Linked DNA regions of Homo sapiens. The protein of the gene in region 2 purifies or fractionates together with the protein of the main gene of each other region. This does not show direct contact. Each region holds a gene or a part of one and is shown on either strand. Other genes may lie near its edges.

The links.
Region 1: the proteins of TAGAP (region 2) and TOMM34 purify together in Homo sapiens (affinity purification with mass spectrometry; one large-scale study listed by BioGRID and IntAct). This does not show direct contact.
Region 3: the proteins of TAGAP (region 2) and CTNNAL1 purify together in Homo sapiens (affinity purification with mass spectrometry; one large-scale study listed by BioGRID and IntAct). This does not show direct contact.
Region 4: the proteins of TAGAP (region 2) and PUS7 purify together in Homo sapiens (affinity purification with mass spectrometry; one large-scale study listed by BioGRID and IntAct). This does not show direct contact.

What each region holds. Positions count from the first base shown.
Region 1 is NC_000020.11:44,953,126-44,958,417, forward strand, and holds part of TOMM34 (mitochondrial import receptor subunit TOM34), read right to left. Parts: exon of another isoform or gene 5,212-5,292; intron 5,183-5,211; exon of another isoform or gene 5,168-5,182; coding exon of another isoform or gene 5,119-5,167; intron 3,361-5,118; coding exon 3,261-3,360; intron 2,496-3,260; exon of another isoform or gene 2,096-2,495; coding exon 1,943-2,095; intron 1-1,942. UniProt on the Homo sapiens protein: Plays a role in the import of cytosolically synthesized preproteins into mitochondria. Binds the mature portion of precursor proteins. Interacts with cellular components, and possesses weak ATPase activity.
Region 2 is NC_000006.12:159,034,152-159,039,443, reverse strand, and holds the end of TAGAP (T-cell activation Rho GTPase-activating protein), read left to right. Parts: intron 1-134; coding exon 135-330; coding exon of another isoform or gene 331-348; exon of another isoform or gene 349-539; intron 540-1,215; coding exon 1,216-1,330; intron 1,331-2,319; coding exon 2,320-3,617; 3' UTR 3,618-4,963; downstream 4,964-5,292. UniProt on the Homo sapiens protein: May function as a GTPase-activating protein and may play important roles during T-cell activation.
Region 3 is NC_000009.12:108,988,728-108,994,019, reverse strand, and holds part of CTNNAL1 (alpha-catulin), read left to right. Parts: intron 1-1,200; coding exon 1,201-1,388; intron 1,389-1,396; exon of another isoform or gene 1,397-1,611; intron 1,612-2,069; exon of another isoform or gene 2,070-2,183; intron 2,184-3,174; coding exon 3,175-3,294; intron 3,295-5,292. UniProt on the Homo sapiens protein: May modulate the Rho pathway signaling by providing a scaffold for the Lbc Rho guanine nucleotide exchange factor (ARHGEF1).
Region 4 is NC_000007.14:105,480,000-105,485,291, forward strand, and holds part of PUS7 (pseudouridylate synthase 7 homolog), read right to left. Parts: intron 2,442-5,292; coding exon 2,313-2,441; intron 1,179-2,312; coding exon 1,053-1,178; intron 1-1,052. UniProt on the Homo sapiens protein: Pseudouridylate synthase that catalyzes pseudouridylation of RNAs.

The DNA of each region.
Region 1 (5,292 bases), on a different chromosome or scaffold from region 2:
CCTTCCTCTCTACTAACTCCAACCGTCAGCATTTAAGTCCCTTTAACTCTTTCCTCACCTAATAAAACCATACTGGACACCCCTTGCCATCACAGGTATACTCCCCAGCTTCTCTTCAAGCCTGACTTTCTGAAAGCATTGCCCTCTGGCTCCTGATCCCACTGACCAGCTTCCATCAGAGCCACCGGTGACTTCATTGCCAAACCTTTAATGTAAGCTCCTTGGAACACCTGACACTAATGATGTCTCCATCTTTCTTGAAATACTCCTTCCCTTGGGACATCAATGCCCTGTTTCCTCCCACCTCTCTAGCTGCTGTTCCTCTGTAAGTCCCTCAAATGCTGGAGTTTCTCAAAGCTCCATCCTCTTCACACTAGCTGTGATGTTCTTTTTCTTTCTCACAGCCCTAATCCACCTCTGCGCTGATGACCCTCAAATCCTTATGTCTGGCCTGTATTTTCTTCCTTTGTTCCATGTAAATACCCAACCGTCCTACTTAGATCTCTAGTCTTATGTCCCACAGTCACCTCCGACTGAATGTCAATAATCTGAGTGTCTTCTTCTATTCCTCCCTTCTCGATACCCCGCAACCACTAAAGCTTGTTGATATACTTCCTACATGTCCCCTGACTGGTCCCATTGTTTTCTCTCCACCCTCTCCCCTGGATTGCTGCATGACTCCTTTCTATTCTGTTGCCCTTCATATCATCCCTCAACATGGCAGCAAAGAGCTTTTCTCTAAAATACAAATCTGCTCATGTTGCTCCACTGCTAAAGACCTTTTCATAAAGGCTGACTTGCTCAGGATTAAGTCCAAGCCCTGAACCCTGGGTCTTGTGTGACTTGGCCTCACCAACCTGTCCCAAGCTGAGCTCCTGCCTGCAGCACCATGTGAAACCGACTTCTTACAATTCCTGTGATCTGTCACACTTGCTCACCTTTGCACACGCTGCTCTGTCTTCTGGCTAACCCCCTACCCCATATCTCTCATTCTTAGCTCACCTCCTCTGAAAAGCTCTCTCTGGCCTCCCCCTCTCCCTCTCAGCTAGCTAGGTGGCTCCTTTCTGGCCTCAGAGCCCCCTGTGCTGCCTCCTACCATGGCGCTTATCATGTTGTATTGTGCTTGCCTATTACTGACTGGTGTCTTCCTTGAGACCGGGACCTCTATGACGGCAGGAAGAGGTATGTCTCAGTCATCAGCCCAGGTCCTAGAGCAAAGTCTGTCACATAATTGGTAGATTTTGTGGAATCAGATAAGTTAAAAAGGAGGCAAAGAGAAAACAAAGAATGCTGGCAGACAAGTCAAGCCAGAAATAAAGCACTAAATACATACCATGAAGTCCCTGTTAAGGGTTTGCTATTAGTGCAGTGTTTGGCTTTCTAGCCGCACACGCAGAGGGGAAACATGATCAGTTATACAAATGACAATATCCATGAGATAAAAGCCAATAACTGCTCAGAGACCAGAAAGGAATTGCACCTGGGGAACCTCTTGGATTGGTCACAGTGCAATATACTGAACCATGTCCACAAACCATATCCTTTTAGGCTTGTCATAGCTGCTTGGGCTTGTGTCTTATTCTTCTAATTAGCGTTAGCGCTTTGAAGGTAAGTGGGGTCTGTATCTCTTTCTCATTTTGGTATCCCCCACTGAACCGGGCACAACACCTTAAACAGTGTACAATAAATATTACTGTGTACATAGATACTGTGAGGCACATGTAGGCAAATATCAATCAATCAATCTTAGTAATTGACTCCCTGAAAACCTGCTAAATAAAAAAGCAGATTTTCCTTTCTCAGCTTCCCCTACATGCCCATCGGGAGTTTTTTAAGTGTAGCCAAAGGGATCCCCTCAGAAGACAGACAAGGCAATGGCCCGCAGCCAATCAAGAAGGACAGGGAGTTGCCGTGGAGACCACCTGCTGGGAATGGAGCTCACCTGTTGATGCCTTCTACGGCTGACGTCACATTATCATCAATCTGCAGCACAGTCTTATAGTCAACATAGGCCATAGGGTACTTCTCCAGAGCCTCATAAGCAGATGCTCGCCGCAGCAGGGGCTTAATGCTGAAGGGAACCAAGGCCAGTGCTCTAGAATAGGAGGCAAAAATGTCAACTGGCTGGCTGCTGAGCCACCAGGGTTTCCCTACAGTTTCTTCCAGGCAGGGTTATCTGGAGCACTCAGCGTACAGGAAGTAATTTCTGGCCGAGAGACATGGCTAAAAACGCCAAACCTCAGAACAGGGATTTTTCAACGTAGACTGAAGTGAGGAGGAGAAAGAAGGCAGAGAAACATGAATTTTGTTAAATGTGTGTGCACATGCATCAATTTTCATAGTTTCAGTTCCCCCAAAATCAAGAACAAAAGCCTCATGGCTTTCATGCTACTATGTTTTTTTACAGTTGTGGTCTAGTGGGAATAACAAACAAGCTTTGGAGTCAGATGGGGTGGTGTCTGAATTCCACCTCTGCTGCTAACTATGTGACCCAGGTAAATCACTTTACTGCCCCAACCCTCAGCAACCAAGTTCTGGCCTGGGACACATGGTAACCGTACCCCACAGATTGGTTGTGAACACTCAAAGAGGGAAATCTGGCACAAGGCATGGCACAAATTAATTCAGCACAGGCTCTGTGAGTATGCTCACACCCCTCCTGCTCTCCTGGCTATCACCAGGGCAGGAATCTAAAGCAATGTCAGAGGACATCAGATCTGAGAACACATTTCAGGTAAATGTGAGAGTTTAATGATGATAAAAGAATATTAGACTGGCTTGAAGAAAAAGAGATATGAAACATTGTTCAGTGTCCTCTAAAACTGGTCATTCATGAATACCATTTTTTTCCTTTCTCCTTCTGAGACAATCTATTAACCTCTATTCCTCCTTCTTTCCTTCGCTCCCTTCCCCTCACATACTCCCATCCCAGAAAAGCACCTGGGCAAGCCAGTTACTGGTCTGCCACTCCACCTTATTCCCAGGTTTCAAATTGCACAAAGACTTTACGGCCTGCTTCTAACTGCCCATCCCACTCCTTTTTCGGCAGCAGAGCCAAGACTCCAAAGATGCAAGTCACGGGCCATAAGGACCAAATAAAGACTCCCATTCTCAGTGACCTGGTGAAACTCAGTGACACTTTCTTAATATCTGTCCCAGATGTAATTGATGGGATCCTTCCAAAGAAGAAACAAGCCAGATTAACCCAGCCTCCTCTTCTGAGACCCTCAGGCATCCCAAAATTACCCTTGGCCACTTACGAAGTGCAATCTTTGATGCAGTCTCTGCAGTTTCCATCCTTCAAGTGACATGCTGCTCGGTTGGAGTAGAGAACACTTTCTTCTTCTGGGTCTGAAGAACCTGCCCAGATAGAGTGGGGAAGATGATCAGTTTGGAAAATGGGTGCCTCAGGGCATTAGGATACATTTCAAACTCAGAGCTCTTTGGGCCTTGTGTTAAGGCAGTAGAGATAACTATAACCTGTTCAGGCTTGTTGGTCTGCTGGGCTGGCGTGTTTGTCATTCTTATGTGACAGAAGGACACTGCGCTTTTTGCCATTCAAAGGGAACCAAGTATTTCCTCATTCACTCATTCCAGCACTGAACTTGATAACAGACAAAAGATAAACAAGAAATAGCTAGCTTCTGCCTCAAAGAAATCCATGCTGTAACTACTTGGGTTTGGGTGGATAAATGGATGGATAGGTGTGTATTTTATTACAAAAAGCATTTAAATCCAAGAAAGAAAGAAAAAAAAAAAAAGAAAAGAAAGGGAGGGAGGGAGGGAACAAGATGATAAACGTATGATAAATGGATTGACCAAAAGTTGTAGGGGCACAAAACACCCATGAAAGACATGAGACTAGTTTTACCTGGTCAAGCCAGGGAGGACTTTGTCAGGGAAATGATAATTGAGCTGGGTGTGATGGGAGTACAGAGAACTTAATCAGGAAAAAGTCTTAAGCTACCCCATGGGGAGAATTATTAGACATTCTTCTAAGGCAGTCCTTACCCTCAGGAATCGCAGAGGCTCAAGTCCTTCACTGTGGCCACCATGATCTTTATTTACGTATTTTTTTTTGAGACAGAGTCCTGCTCTGTTGCCCAGCCTGGAGTGCAGTGGAGCGATCTCCGCTCACTGCAACTCCACCTCCTGGGTTCAAGCAATTCTCCTGCCTCAGCCTCAGCCTCCTGAGTAGCTGGGATTACAGGCACTCGCCACCACGCCTGGTAGAGACAGGGTTTCACTATGTTGGCCAAGCTGGTCTTGAACTCCTGACCTCAGGCAATCCGCCTGCCTCGGCCTCCCAAAGTACTGGGATTACAGACGTGAGCCACCGTGCCCAACCAACAATGATCTTTATTTTTAAAGATAATTTTCAACCACTTCATACCCACTAGTGTCGGCCATTATTTTAAAAAGAATTGAAAACAGGGTCTCTTTTTGAAAATTTTGAAACATACAGAAGACCATTATCTCAGAATCCACCACTAGATTTAGCACGTTATATTAGTTCCCAACTTTTTTAATTTTTAGAGACAGCGTCTCCCTCTGTTGCCCAGGCTGAAGTGTAGTAGCACAATCATAGCTCACTGCAGCCTCAAACTCTTGGGCTCAAGTGATCTTCCCAGCTCAGCCTACCAAGCAGATAGGACTACAGGTGTGTACCCCCAAGCCCAGTTAATTTTTAAAGTTTTTGTAGAGACAGAGTCCCACTGTGTTGCCCAGGTTGGTCTTGAATGCCTAGCCTCAAGTGATCCTCCCGCTTTGGCCTCCCAAAGTGTTGGGATTATAGGCATGAGCTATGGCACCCAACCCTTAAAAATTTTTTTGATAAGCTAAAACTCCAGCCATCCCCATCCTTATCCCTGTGCTCCCTCCCCAGACTCACAGAGGCCAGTACAATCCTGAAGTTGGTATGTAACATTTTCAAGCATGTTCTACATTTACATATATATGTATATATGTATATGTATATATGTATACATGTACATGTATATATATGTATATGTATATATATGTGTGTGTGTGTGTGTGTGTTAACAGGAAAGATACCATTTTATGTCTATTAAAGCATTTCCTAAGAGGCATCATATTGCCTATCCTTCTGCAACTTACTTTTTTCACTCAGTATCCTGTTGCCATGTTGATATTTGATATCTTTCATTCAATACCAACAATAACAAGCGTTTTCCCCTCTTGTTTTGCCAGGCCCAGAGACGGAAAGTACAAAGACTAGTAAAATACATCCTTGCCCTTAAGGAGCTAAGTACCCAAAACCTGTAATCCATC
Region 2 (5,292 bases):
CATTTCACAATATTACTTGTGAAAATGCACCTTCCTCATTTTAAAGGAAGTCTGGTTTCGGCAGAAACTCTCAGCTTGCTACACTGAAGACCATTAGCCTTTTTGAAAACTAACATCCCTTCACTTTATTCCAGGGTTGCAGATAAGCTCCCCCGGCCCAACCTCCTGCTACTCAAGCACTTGGTCTATGTGCTGCACCTCATCAGCAAGAACTCTGAGGTGAACAGGATGGACTCCAGCAATCTGGCCATCTGCATTGGACCCAACATGCTCACCCTGGAGAATGACCAGAGCCTGTCATTTGAAGCCCAGAAGGACCTGAACAACAAGGTTTGTTCTGCTTACTGATGAGAAATCCCCAACTTATGATCTCACCATCTGTTTGCCAAGTCCAGGCAATAAAATGCTTCAGAATGTCTCCAACTGACTCAGAATCACAGTGAAAATATAAAATGCAAAATGCTTTTGTCATAGTTCCACTCTCTCAGATACATGTATCTAATGAAACTGAATAAATCCGTGTCTTCTGTCATCTGTGAGACAGATGAGTGCTGCGAGTATTTACATCACTCTCTCCCGATATAAAAAAGCCCTTTTGTTTTTGTGTTTTGTACACCACAGTCTATCAGTCTATCAATCTGGGACACTACTTACTTAAATGAAAATTTTATTAATACTTTAAATTTTTTTAAGTTCTTAAATTTAAAATGCATGTCTCAAAACACCAAGGAGTATCTAACTTTAATGTATGTGATTGTTGGCATGGTGGCTCACGTCTGAAATCTCAGCACTTTGGGAGGCCGAGGCAGGCGAATTGCCTGAGCTCAGGAGTTTGAGACCAGCCTGGGCAACATGACAAAACCCCGTCTCCACTAAAAATAGAAAAAATTAGCCAGGCGTGGTGGCGGGCGCCCGTAGTCCCAGCTGCTCGGAAGGCTGAGGCGGGAGAATCGCTTGAGCCCGGGAGGCAGAGGTTGCAGTGAGCTGAGATCAGGCTACTGCACTCCAGCCTGGTGACAGAGTGAAAGCCTGTCTCAAAAAAAAAAAAAAGTATCTGATTGTTACCAAATTTCTGTATGCTCTTTTCAGACACATAAAGATCTCAGATTCTCATTTTGGCACCTGACTCCAGTGTCCCCATTCTTCCTCACCTCCAAAAAAAAAAAAAAAAAAAAAAAGTCTTCAAGCTGACAAATTGCTTACTTTTCCTCACAGGTGAAGACACTGGTGGAATTCCTCATTGATAACTGCTTTGAAATATTTGGGGAGAACATTCCAGTGCATTCCAGTATCACTTCTGATGACTCCCTGGAGCACACTGACAGTTCAGGTATGGAATGTGCTATCATTTGATTACGATTGTAGGGAAAAGTTCATGCCAGTCTGCCAGTCATGTAAAGCATCTCTGATATTTGAGGCAGAAGTTACCTTCACAAATCACCGAGTCAGACTAGACTCCAGTCCATTAGGAAGTCATTAAACATGAAAACCCTGCTCCGGGCTTTTCCTGCAGCGCCTCCTCAGACCACAGATAGTCTTTCCCCCTTCCCAGTGTACATCGCAAATCACTGCTGATTTCACTAAGCTACCTTTAGCTCTGGAGTTGGAGTGAGAAACTTTTGTTTCCACTTCATGGGATATGACTCCATCACAATGAAAATGGGTCCAGTAAAAGGAGCAGTTTTAAAAATTAAGGTCAATACATTTTCAGTGAAATGCTGTTCTCTCTTTTCTTATTCTCTCCTCTCTTTCTCTCCTTCCTCCCTCCTTTACTCATTTCCTTTCCCTATTTTTCTTCTGATCTCAAAATAAATTCAGAAAGAAATAAACTTTTCATGTGGTACATTTCTTGTCATATCAAGCCCCTAAGTAGTTCTGCTAATAAATCACCTAGTGCCCTGATTGGTATGAGCAGGGCGAACTGTAGCAAAGTTCATTTCTAAAAGAACCTAAATGGCCGTGTGTGGTGGCTCACGCCTATAATCCCAGCACTTTGGGAGGCCAAGGCAGGCAGATTACCTGAGATCAGGAGTTCAAAAACAGCCTAGCCAACATGGTGAAACCCCGTCTCTACTAAAAATAGAAAAAATAGCCAGGCATGGTGGCGGGCACCTGTAATCCCAGCTACTGAGGCTGAGGAAGGAGAATCACTTGAACCCGGGAGGTAGAGGTTGCAGTGAGCCGAGATCACATCACTGCACTCCAGCCTGGGCAACAAACCGAGACTCCATCTCAAAAAATGAAAATAAAAAATACAAATAAAAATAAATAAATAAATAAACCCAAACAAATGTTCAACTGCTGCTTGACTTCCCCCAGATGTGTCGACCCTGCAGAATGACTCAGCCTACGACAGCAACGACCCTGATGTGGAATCCAACAGCAGCAGTGGCATCAGCTCTCCCAGCAGGCAGCCCCAGGTGCCCATGGCCACAGCTGCTGGCTTGGATAGCGCGGGCCCACAGGATGCCCGAGAGGTCAGCCCAGAGCCCATTGTGAGCACCGTGGCCAGGCTGAAAAGCTCCCTCGCACAGCCCGATAGGAGATACTCAGAGCCCAGCATGCCATCCTCCCAGGAGTGCCTCGAGAGCCGGGTGACAAACCAAACACTAACAAAGAGTGAAGGGGACTTCCCCGTGCCCCGGGTAGGCTCTCGTTTGGAAAGTGAGGAGGCTGAAGACCCATTTCCAGAGGAGGTCTTCCCTGCAGTGCAAGGCAAAACCAAGAGGCCGGTGGACCTGAAGATCAAGAACTTGGCCCCGGGTTCGGTGCTCCCGCGGGCACTGGTTCTCAAAGCCTTCTCCAGCAGCTCGCTGGACGCGTCCTCTGACAGCTCGCCCGTGGCTTCTCCTTCCAGTCCCAAAAGAAATTTCTTCAGCAGACATCAGTCTTTCACCACAAAGACAGAGAAAGGCAAGCCCAGCCGAGAAATTAAAAAGCACTCCATGTCTTTCACCTTTGCCCCTCACAAAAAAGTGCTGACCAAAAACCTCAGCGCGGGCTCTGGGAAATCGCAAGACTTTACCAGGGACCACGTCCCGAGGGGTGTCAGAAAGGAAAGCCAGCTTGCCGGCCGAATCGTGCAGGAAAATGGGTGTGAAACCCACAACCAAACAGCCCGCGGCTTCTGCCTGAGACCCCACGCCCTCTCGGTGGATGATGTGTTCCAGGGAGCTGACTGGGAGAGGCCTGGAAGCCCACCCTCTTATGAAGAGGCCATGCAGGGCCCGGCAGCCAGACTAGTGGCCTCCGAGAGCCAGACCGTGGGGAGCATGACGGTGGGGAGCATGAGGGCGAGGATGCTGGAGGCGCACTGCCTCCTACCCCCTCTTCCACCTGCTCACCACGTAGAGGACTCAAGACACAGGGGCAGCAAAGAGCCACTCCCTGGCCACGGACTCTCTCCCCTGCCTGAGCGATGGAAACAGAGCAGAACTGTCCATGCTTCTGGGGACTCTCTGGGGCACGTGTCTGGCCCAGGGAGACCTGAGCTCCTCCCGCTGAGGACCGTCTCCGAGTCCGTGCAGAGGAATAAGCGGGACTGTCTCGTGCGACGATGTAGCCAGCCGGTCTTTGAGGCTGACCAATTCCAATATGCCAAAGAATCGTATATTTAGGAGGGAGGCCATACGCCATGCCATAGCTTGTGCTATCTGTAAATATGAGACTTGTAAAGAACTGCCTGTAGATTGTTTTTAAAAGGTCTTGAATAAGCTCCTTGAGAAAGTTGTGGAAAGCCCTCCTCAGTGAGGATAGCTACACCATGGCCATGGCGCATCAGATAGTCTCTGTGTACCTGGATTTGTGCAATATGTAAAAATGTATCAAATGTATTATAGATAAGGTGTTAGGTGCAAAGGATGTCTAATAATCCCTGCACACGTTTTGAACTTGCAGTGAAGTACACTGCTGTTCCTTGCTTCCTGGGGCACTTTTCTCTTGGTTAGTGTTTAAAAATTATCTTCGCTTTTTTAATGTGGCCTCAAATGTCATGCCAATTTTCACATCTTCCACAAACTCCATTTAGGGAGAAATGTTTAAATCTCTGGTATAAGTTTACTCCATACCAGAGTAAACTATATATTACTCTATATAAGCAGTCTTGCAATAACTAATCACCACCATAGAAGAAAGAAACAGACTGCAAGGAACAGAGTTGAGTGTCTGGAGTCATCAAAGGCATTAAAAACTCCAGTAAAAGCTGGGGCCGTAGCAAAAATCATGAAAAACACTTCAACGTGTCCTTTCAATCATCCAATTAAATGTGGGTAGATTAATGAAAATGTATTACATCAATATTAACTCATCTATAGCACTTTGAGTATCTTTGTAGTTCATGATATCCTATCCTATAATGTGGAGGTAAATGATTTTATATGCATTGGGGGTCATATATAAAACTTCAATGTAATTTCACTACAATAAATTGCCTTCCTTATTTGAAAGTAAAAATGTTCTTTTTTTATTGACATGTTAACTCCTTTCCCTCAATTAATAGAAATCCACTAAGAAAATCATTCACATATTGGTTCACTCAACAAGCATTTATTAAATATATATTCACTATTCTAGACTAATAGCAAGACCGGGGATCTTGTTTAGGAAGAAGCAGTCCCTGTTCTCCAGAATTTGCAAAACCATTAAAAAAGCACCTACTTTAAGCCATTTTTTTTCAGCAAGGAGTCATTCTGCCAGAAAAATGTAGTACACAAATACAGGATAATATAACAAATGTAAAATTTCTCATTTCTAGTGAATTAAACTTTCCAGTAATTTTACATCTCACCTCATTCTTATGATGCTCAGTTTGCTTAATTATTGGCAAACATAATGGTAAAATGTTTGTACTGTATTAGAGCTTTACTGTTCGATTATTAAGATATTTATCCAGTATCTTAGAGATGCTGGACTTCAATTTTCCTTATTTTATCTTTTTAAAATAAAATATCATGCATGCTTCTGATTTGTTATAGAAATATTTTGTGTTGAGTCTTTTCGGAGATGATTTATCAATAATGGGCAAAGTTAATAATGTTGTAAAATAGACTGCTCAAGGCAGCATACTCAGACCTAATATTAAAAATACTTTATTGATGGGCCAGGTGTGGTGGCTCACACCTGTAATCCCAGCACTTTGGGAGGCCGAGGTGGGCAGATCATTTGAGATTGGGAGTCTGAGACCAGCCTGGCCAACATGGTGAAACCCCATCTCTACTAAAAATACAAAACATAGCTAGGTGTGGTGATGGGTGCCTGTAGTCCCAGCTACTTGGGAGGCTGAGGCAGGAGAAT
Region 3 (5,292 bases), on a different chromosome or scaffold from region 2:
GACCTCAGGTGATCCACCCGCCTCGGCCTCCTAAAGTGCTAGGATTACAGGTGTGAGCCACTGTGCCTGCCAGACTGATCTTTCCAAACCTTGACTTATACTTCACCCTGTGGCCTCTCCATTAAGATTCCAGTACTTTTTACTCAAGATCCTTAGCCTATGAGCTGACACATTATTGTGTGTATGTAATAGAATTGACAGGAGGGCTTTTGTAAGAAAATCAATCCATTAGGCACACAGGTATATTTAGGACTTTAAAAAATGATCTTGAACACTATAAGTTGGTTAAAGGTTTATTATTTTAAAAATCTTTTTAACAGTATGGAGGTTTGAAGAATATTGTAGCCTTGTATTATAATACAAGAATACTTGGATTGTTTTATTAGTAGATAATTACCATTACAGAAATCAAAAGTTTTGATAGCAACAGTGAAGAAGATAATTTTTCTAGAGGGTTGGGAGTTCAATTAATAGAATGGTTTATGCTGGGCATCATAAGAAGTTTATATAAATTCAAACTGTAGCCTAAATGAGGGCCAGCCTGTGGTTTGAATTCTCAGGAGGGAGGCTTTTGTTTTGTTTACTTTCCCCACCCAAAGTCCAGGCTGACTGACAGACAAACTTCCTTATTGTTTCTTTTTGCCTATTGACAGTTCTTTCCGGGCCCCCATTATATTGAAGATGTCATCCCTTGGGGCCTAAAGCCCTGTCTTTTTTCTCTCTCTGAGGATCCGTGAAAACCCAAGGGTGAAAACCCAAGGCCGTTCAGCTTGTGGAGATTGGCAGTGACCCCTGACTTCTCCCCGGCCTCGCCCCAGCCCAAGCCTTGGCACCTGCTTACTGCTCGGGTTTTAGGGTATTCTTTGGTTTTTGACTCATGGGATTTCTCTTACTGTCTTGTAGGGCAGGAGGCTTTTAGATTGTGTAGTTTGCATTACCACTGGAAACAAAAATTATGATGTTTTTCAAACTGGGTGAGGGCAAAATTTGTCACAGTTCTTAAGAGTGTGCTATTATTTTCTGGTTAGAAAGCTTCGTATGATAATCCCTACAATCGTCAAGGTGAAACCGTTTCTTGTTCCTGAAGTAAGACTCCAAAGCTGAGTTTCTCCTCATTGTGCCTTACCTTCAAGGTTAGAGAGAAGTCTAGATTTTAATTTGTATGCCTGTTTAACTTTCTCCCCTCGTCTTTCTTGTTAGGAGAAACAATTGCAGCACTTACAGACATAACCAACTTGAACCATCTGGAATCTGATGGGCAGATCACAATTTTTACAGACAAAACAGGAGTGATAAAGGCTGCAAGATTACTTCTTTCTTCAGTGACAAAAGTGTTGTTGCTGGCAGACCGAGTAGTCATTAAACAGATAATAACATCAAGAAATAAGGTACTTACCTTTCTGATGTTGCTGTATTTTTGTCTTTCTGTGTTGTTCAAAGTGCTTTTTATGACTCTTAGTGGTGGATTGCTTGGCTTGTGTGTCGATGAAGAATGCAGCTAGCTGTGGGAATTAATGTGCAATGCAGGATACATTGACACACTGATCATCTGTACGTTGAATGCACTTGTGGCCCTGGGTTCCTCCCGGGGCTATGCATGTCTGAGCGTTGCTTAAAAAAAAAAAAAAAGAAAAGTTCTTTTTAGGTTAATTGTAAGTAATTTGGCAATGCTTGTCTATTATAATTGTTTATAACTCTGTCTGTAGTTTAAAAGTAGTGTTTCTTCTATATGTGCAATTCTTAAATGATGGGTATGCTGTGCCTAAACTTTTGAATGCAAGTAATGTCTCCTCTTAGAGAATCATTATCCACTTGTTAAGGCTTATTGGTAAAAGCTTTAAATGTGTACAACATTTGGAAAGAAAAGGTGAGCACTATGATAATGTATGTAGCAGAAACCTAGTTGATAAAAATACTGAATTCTTCTGTACTTTTTTTCCCTCCCAAATCAGAGACTAACAATATATAACTTAAGACACAGTTAAATCAGTGGAAATGATAATTATCCACAACTACAAAATTTCTGTACTCAGAGTCCCTAAATGTTACTGAATAATCTCAAAACTTACAGAACAGATTTAAACTCTTCCAGTCCAGAAGTTAATCTCTCAGATGATGGTCATGCTCCATGATCATCTGGGAATCCAGGGTATGTACGATCACTTCTTGCTTTGGATAATTCCCTAGGCAAAGAGGAGAGCAGTTGGCCAGGGAAGGAGTTGTCCTAGAGGATTTGAGGATAAAACCACTTGATAAGTGTTGAATGAATCAGAAATTGGAGAGGTGGATCTGGCAGCGCTGGAGAAATACAAACAACCTTCCCCTCTTTGAAAGATGGAGGTTCTCACAGTGGTGGCAACGTGCCTTATCAGTGTTAGTCGCCTGAACTTCCTGAGCTGCCAGGGCAGATTAACATGCCAAATATTCATCATATTCTCAGGAAAAATAAGTAAACAGAGGATATCTGTGTTTTTTTTTAACTTATCTTGTTGCGACTAAAACAATCTAATAATGTTATTTTAAAGAAAAGTATTTGAAAATATGTTTCACATCTATTTACTTTGTTTCTTACATCAAGAAAACACATAACATTTTAGTCACTGGCTCTACCAGATTCACACACTCTTTATTCACCCCTGATGGCCCATTCCTGACTGAGCCAGACTAATTTTCCCACCCTTAAAGTCCCACACTTCCCTTTCGACTCTATACTCTGAAGATGATGAGGTTCCTTCTGCTTTCCTGAGAATGTTAGGGTTCCTATCATCCTGGTTCACTGAACCTTAAAGCTTGTGTGTGCTGACTTTCATCCTCACCCCTTCCCAGTTCTCTGAAGATTTGATTACTGTGGTCCTGCCCATTCCCACCTTTTAGACTTGGCTACATAAATGATCCCTTCCTTTGTATATGTAGTCATTTCTTTTATTCTTTTTCCTTTTCCTTTTCAAGTAACTCAAAATCTCATCATATAAACAAATCATTCCCCTAATAATTCTGTGCCTTGAATCTACTTCTACTTCTCTGAGCATCCCCTTGTGTGTCTTCTATCTGGCTCCTCCTCCTCAGCTTTCACCTAGAATTCAGAATTTTCCTTTTCTTCTCTCTACTCAGCCTTGACAATCTCAGTCTCTTGAGTAGCTCTCACCAAATAATGAATTATTATCTGTTTTGCAGGTTCTCGCAACTATGGAAAGACTAGAGAAAGTGAATAGCTTTCAAGAGTTTGTCCAAATATTCAGTCAATTTGGAAATGAAATGGTGGAGTTTGCACATCTGAGTGGAGATAGACAAAATGTATGTATTCATCACATTTTACAATCTTCAGATAAATACATACTTTTTAGTTTGGATGGAGGTATGATCGTTAGGATTGTTTGGACTGGTTTCTTTGCTTATTAAGTCTATAGCCTTGGTCTTGAAAGCCTTTCATAGATAAGCCAGGATAAAGTAAGTAGATCTATATGTCTTTTTTTGTACATTTATAACAGTTAATTTTGTTCCCACCTCACACACTGGGAAAGGTCATACTTGCTATCAGGGCTCAACTCAAGTACTTCTTCCTTTTATTTGGTTACTTTCTCTTTTATGAAGCTTTCCATTTGATTCCTCTACTAGGGCTCAGGCACATAAAATTGAGTCATCATATGTATTCTTATAGTATCTTGTTAGATATTTGTTATTCTTACCGTATTAGATTAATAGTAATAACCCAAGCCATTATTTATTTGCACTGCCTATGTGTTAGGTACTTAATATACATGATCTCATTTAATTTTCAAAACATCCCTATGAGGTAGGTATTGTTAACTACTGTTTTACATATAGGGAAACTGAACCTGAGACAAGGATAAACTTTCCCAAGGTCACTGTGCTAGCAGATCGAACTCAGTTATATCTGATTCTAAAGTCTGTAGTTCTCAAACTACAACATGATATTTGTTTTTTATTTTATTTTATTTTATTTTTTCTGAGATGGAGTCTCTCTCTGTCACCCAGGCTGGAGTGCAGTGTCGTGATCACGGCTCACTGCAACCTCCACCTCCTGGGTTCAAGTGATTCTCATGCCTCAGCCTCCCGAGTAGCTGGGACTACAGGCATGCACCACCACGCCCAGCTAACTTTTTGTATTTTTAGTAGAGACAGGGTTTCACCATGTTGGCCAGGCTGGTCTCGAACTCCTAATCTCAGGTGATCCGCCCGCCTCAGCCTCCCAAAGTGCTGGGATTACAGGCGTGAATCACCGTGCCCAGCCAATATTAGTTCCTTATGGGTCTGTTCCCCAATTCAGACAGTAAGCTCCTCAGTTTTGGGAGATGGAAGATCATATTATGTCTAGGATTGACTTTTCCTTGTTGGGGTATTTGTGTAGGAGTCTGTCTTGTTGGCAGGTTAAATATATATAATAATTGACCATTTCTTGGGATGGTTCTGGGTGTAGTCCCATAGGCTAGTCTCTCAGTTTTTGATATGAACTTTCCCAATTGCAGCTGGAGTTGAAAAATGGGTATTGGTCTGGCAAGTGGCAGGCTAAATAATGGCATTGGTTTGTAATACCAATGGTGTTTCTATAGGCAGGTACTTTATTGTTTCATTTTCTGTCTGCCATTATTGTTCTTTATAAAACAAATTTTCTTTCTTTTCCTTCTCTTTCTCTTAATCTTCCTTCTTCTCCTCATTCTCCCCAATGATAATTATTAGCCTGAGTATTTTTATAATAATAGTAGCTTATAATCTAGCATTTTCTTGATCACTTGAGCAAGCGTGGCATGAGTCATAGGTTCTAAAGCTACCATCCTTCAGTTACACTTCCTACAGGATCCTCTTCAGCTTCTGGACATAACTGAAAAACTTTCACCATCATTTTGATTTGTAGTTAGAAATTTGGCATGGAGAACATTTTATTTTTCTCAATTCTTGTAATATTGTGATCCAACATTTAAAAACTTCTGGCTGAAGTGGTATCTATTTTTAGCAATTTAGCTCATTAAATGTGGGACCCCTGAAACTTACTGGCAGCCTTTTTATCATCTGTGTTTGATAAGTGCTACTCCTGGGTCACTTTTTTGGAATATGCATCCAGGGTTCAAATGCTTTCTCCTTTAGAATAGTCAAAATATCCTGCAAAGAGCTATAGGTCAGGTGCATTCTCAGTTTTCTCAGCAAATATTCATCAGCTGCTTACTGTTAACCAAATACTACACTAGGTGTTGAGGATTCAACAGTAAATAAAAGTGACAAAAACCTCTGCACTCATGGAGCTTATGTTTTAGTAGGGGTGGGAGGAGATAGACA
Region 4 (5,292 bases), on a different chromosome or scaffold from region 2:
AATAAAAATAAAAAATAAAATAAAATTAAGAGCGAGGGAAGGGCAGATCAAAGTTTAATAAACGTGTTAACACAGATCAGAAAATGTGACATCTCTGTCTGGCTACTCTGGGTCTGAGTTACCCAACAGATTACTGTTGAATCACTTACTGAGCCAAGACTTACCTGTTACAAAATAAAAATAAAAATAGGGCTGGGCGTAGTGGCTCACACTTGTAATCCCAACACTTTGGGAGGCTGAGGTAGGCGGATCATTTGAGGTCAGGAGTTCAAGACCAGCCTGGCCAACATGGTGAAATTCCCGCCACTACTAAAAATACAACAAAGTTAGCTGGATGTGGTGGCAAAAGCCTGCAATCTCAGCTACTTGGGATGCCGAGGCAGGAGAATTGCTTGAACCTGGGAGGTGGAGATTGCAGTGAGCCAACATTGCACCACTGTACTTCAGCCTGAACAACAAAGATTCCATCTCAAAAAAATAAAAAATAAAAAAAATAGCTGGGTGTGGAGGCTCATGCCTGTAATCCCAGCAGTTTGGGAGGCTGAGGTCGGGGGATCACCTGAGGTTGGGAGTTCGAGACCAGCCTGACCAACATGGAGAAACCCCATCTCTACTAAAAATGCAAAATTAGCCAGTCATGGTGGCGCATGCCTGTAAACCCAGCTACTCAGGAGGCTGAGGCAGGAGAATCACTTGAACCTGGGAGGCAGAGGATGCGGTGAGCCGAGATTGCGCTATTGCACTCCAGCCTGGGCAACAAGGGCGAAACTCTGTCTCAGAAAAAATAAATATATAAAATAAAATAAAAAAATAAAAATAGAACCCCTGGATGGGTAACCAAGAGTGGTAGGAAAGCTCACTTTTCAGGTCATATCCTTTTGAACTCCGATTTTTTACCCTGTGCACTCATTAACTTAAAACAAAAATCATGAAACTGTGGTTCATTTGCCCCAGACATGGGAGAACGTAGAAATAATTAAAAACACCACCACCAACAAACCCTGCTTTGTTTATGAGAAAGCTATTTTTGATAAAAGAAATTAAATACCAACCTTCCAACCTGATACGTAGGGACAGCTGTGGTTCCAAATCTTTGCATTCCATAGTAGTTAATAAATCCAATCTCCTTGAGAGAGTTCATAGCTTGCTGTACTTGGTCATCAGTTCCTGTTATATTTCTACAGGGACACAAATTATCCAGAGGAAAAAAAGTTACAGTCAAATACTCAGGGATGCAGCTCATAAATGACTACGGCCTGGCTTCCAAGTCTTTCGTTCACTCTCCTGCAGCTTTCTCTCTACCTCCCAAGGGCTCTTTCTTTCTTTAAGTTGTGGTAAGATATTTATAATGTCAAATTTACTATTTTAGCCATTTTTAAGTGTGCAATTTGGCGGTATTAACCCATTTATGGCAGAGGTTGCAATTTTTTGAATTTTTGCAATCAGACCTTGGCGATGACCTTGAGCAGTAGGATATAAATAATTCCTACATGCTTAGTGTTCCAATAATGGAACACTAGCATAAATGGGTTAATTATATGCACAATGTTGGACAATCCTCACCACTATCTACTTCCCAAATTTTTTCCCGTTTCCAAAATGAAACTCTGTACCCCTAAACAGTAACTTTCCATTACCCCTACCCTACCCTTTCCCCAGTAACCACTATTTTACTTTCTATGTCCATGGATTTGCCTATTCTAGGCGCTTTAAGTGGAATCACAGGCTCAGTGTCTTTTTTTTTTTTTTGAGTTGGAGTCTCACTCTGTCCCCTAGGCTGGAGTGCAGTGGAGCGATCTCGGCTCACTGCAAGTTCTGCCTCCTCGGTTCACGCCATTCTCCTGCCTCAGCCTCCTGAGTAGCTGGGACTACAGGTGTCTGCCACCACGCCCGGCTAATTTTTTGTATTTTTAGTAGAGACAGGGTTTCACCGTATTAGCCAGGATGGTCTCGATCTCCTGACCTTGTGATCCACCTGCCAAGGCCTCCCAAAGTGCTGGGATTACAGGCGTGAGCCACTGCGCCCAGCCGGCTCGGTGTCTTTTACTACAATATTTGAAGGAGATGGTGTCTTTCCAAAGGCTGCACTAGGTTTTCAAGGGGCAAGGTGTCCACACAAATCCTACAGAGGTATTTGCTCTCACAGAGGTATCTGCTCTCCCAGCCCTGCCAGGCCCTGCTCTGCCCTCCCTTGCTGCCACTCCTGTTCTGTTAGTACCAGCTCACCAGGACCTTATGACCAACCGTGAGTAACATACTCAAGATGCCCTGGCCAGACCCTCTGGTCTACATTCCCACCTGCAGTTCTTTACCTGAGAACAACAGTGAAGTGGTTTCCTTGAAGCTCTCCCAATTTCAGTGGGTTTTTTTGATAGCTGAAATTCCCTAGCTTAAAGTTCATCAAGCACTTATTCAGGTGGGCAAGTCTTTGTGCAGTTATTCTTTAAAAAAAAAAAAAAAAGCAACAAAACAAAAAAGAGTAGAAAGAGGATCATGAGATACTGATTGTCTGCTTGGAACAGTACAGAAAACAAGATACAGCACACCTATGACCCCCTGAAAGGAAAAGGCACTGCAGCAGGTGAGGTGGGCGTGTCCTTCTCTTCTCTCTGCATTCTTCCTTCAGTGTAATGGTACGTGCTCCTGTTCAAATTGCATACTCCTGGCCATATTTTATATACTTAAAGCCTCTTGTTATTTACATGCTGATGAGTAACAGAACAATAATATCTGTGGAATTTTCTACTTTTTGTGGGGAGAGGGGTGAGAAAAGGGATGGGGACAGAGACAAATCCCATAGAAAGAATGGTATCAAGCATTTAAAAAAAGGTCATTATTTTTGTCAATCAGAAAAATTTTGTAAACTCATTACAGAAAACTTGGAAAATATAAAAAAGAGAAAAGGAAAAGAAATTCATATTTTCATTGCCTGAAAAAAATTTCCACTGACATCTAACTTTTTATTTCCTCCCTTTCTTTTTTTAAAAGACATGTTATATATAGCTGGAATTCTACCCAAATCTGTATCATGCTGCTATCAATATATAGAAATTTTCATTAGAAATTCCTTGCCTTCTTCAATAGGAAATGTATATAGAGAAACAGAGTACTGAAAAGCCTTTCTCCCCTTTTTATCTCTAGTGTCACCACTAACACCCAATGTTGTTTCTTTCTTTCCTTTTTTTTTTTTGAGACAGTCTCTCTCTGTTGCCCAGACTGGAGTGCAGTGGCATGATCTCAGCTCACTCTGCCTCCCTGGCTCAAGTGAATCTCCTGCCTCAGCCTCCCAAGTAGCTGGGCTTACAGGCGCACACCACCATGCCCGGCTAATTTTTTTTTAGTTTTAGTACAGATGGGGTTTCACCATGTTGGCCAGGCTGGTCTTGAACTCCTGACCTCAGGTGATCCGCCCGCCTCGGCCTCCCAAAGTGCTGAGATTACAGGTATGAGCCACCGTGCCCAGCTAATTTTTATATTTTTAGTAGAGACGGGTTTCACCATGTTGGCCAGGCTGGTCTTGAACTCCTGACCTCAGGTGATCCACCCACATTGGCCTCGCACAGTGCTGCGATTACAGGCGTGAGATAAGTTCAAGAGATTCTTCTGCCTGAGCCTCCCGAGTAGCTGAGAATACAGGTACATGCCACCACACCTGGCTATGTTTTTTTGTATTTTCAGTAGAGACAGAGTTTCACTATGTTGGCCAGGCTGGTCTCGATCTCCTGGCCTCAAGTGATCCACCCACCTCAGCTTCCCAAAGTGTTGGGATTACAGCCATGAGCCAGTGCACCTGGCCATCTTTTTGTTTTTTAGGCTGCCAGGATCCAATTGAGGATCACACATTGCAGCTGTGATGTCTGTTTGGTTTCCACTAAGTGATCTGTCTAGCCTTGTTTTTCATGATATCTGGCCCTTAGAAGAATCCAGGCCAGCGCTTTTACACGTCTTTCAATGTGGATTTATCTGATTGTTTCCTCATGCTGAGACTCAGGTAAACACTTTGGTAGAAATATTACTGAGGTGATATGGCCCTTTTCAATGCATCACATCAAAAGGCAGTGATTTTGTCCAACAATGATAATAACTTTAATCATTTAATTAGGATAGTATTTACTAGATTTTTACACTCTAAGAGTCTCTTTGTCTTTGCTTTTAATTAGTCATCAGTGGGGAAATACTTTTGAAATTGTGTAAAAATCCTGTTCCCCCAAAGTCTTTACCCAATTATTTAGGTACCCAAGCATGATTGTTGGCTGAATTGATTATTACTGTGTTGACTGAAACTGTGTTTCTATATTTGTTGGCATTCTTCTGTAAATAAAAACTATGTAGGGGCCAGGCACAGTGGTTTACGCCTGTAATCCCAGTACTTTAGGAGGCCTAGATGGGCAGATAGCTTGAGCCCAGGAGTTCAAGACCAGCCTGGCCAACACAGCAAGATCCCATCTCTAAAATTAAAACAAACAACTATATGGAGAAACTTTAGTTAAATTCATGAATCTTTTTTTCTTAAAAAAAAAAAAAAAAATAGCTCTGGGACCGGGCGCGGTGCTTCATGCCTGTAATCCCAGCACTTTGGGAGGCCGAGGCGGGCGGATTACCTGAGGTCAGGAATTCGAGACCAGCCTGGCCAATATGGTGAAACCCCGTCTCTACTAAAAATACAAAAATTAGCCGGGTGTGGTGGCACACGCCTGTAATCCCAGCTACTTGGGGGCTGAGGCAGGAGAATTGCTTGAGCCCGGGAGGCAGAGGTTGCAGTGAGCTGAGATCGTGCCACTGCACTCCAGCTTGGCTGTCAAAAAAAAAAAAAGCTCTGAGATTTAACTCATACTTAGGATGTCACCAGTCAGAGATTTTTTTTTTTTTTTTTTTTTTTAAGACGGAGTCTTGCTCTGTGTCGCCCAGGCTGGAGTGCAGTGGCATGATCTCAGCTCACTGCCACCTCTGGCTCCTGAAATCAAGGAATTATCCTGCCCTGGCTTCCTGAGTAGCTGGGGCTACAGGCACACACCACCATGCCTGGCCAATTTTTATATTTTTAGCAGAGATGGGGTTTCACCAGGTTGGCCAGGCTGGTCTCAAACTCAAGTGATCTTCCCGCCTCAGCCCCACAAAGTGCTGGGATTACAGGGGTCAGCCACCACACCTGGTCAGAGATTCTTTTTTTTTTAATCTCAAATGTAAGTAGAGTACTGTTTTTTGTTGTTGTTGTCGTCGTTGTTTTTTGAGATGGAGTTTTGCTCTTTGCCCAGGCTGGAGCGCAATGGCGCGATCTTGGCTCACTGCAAC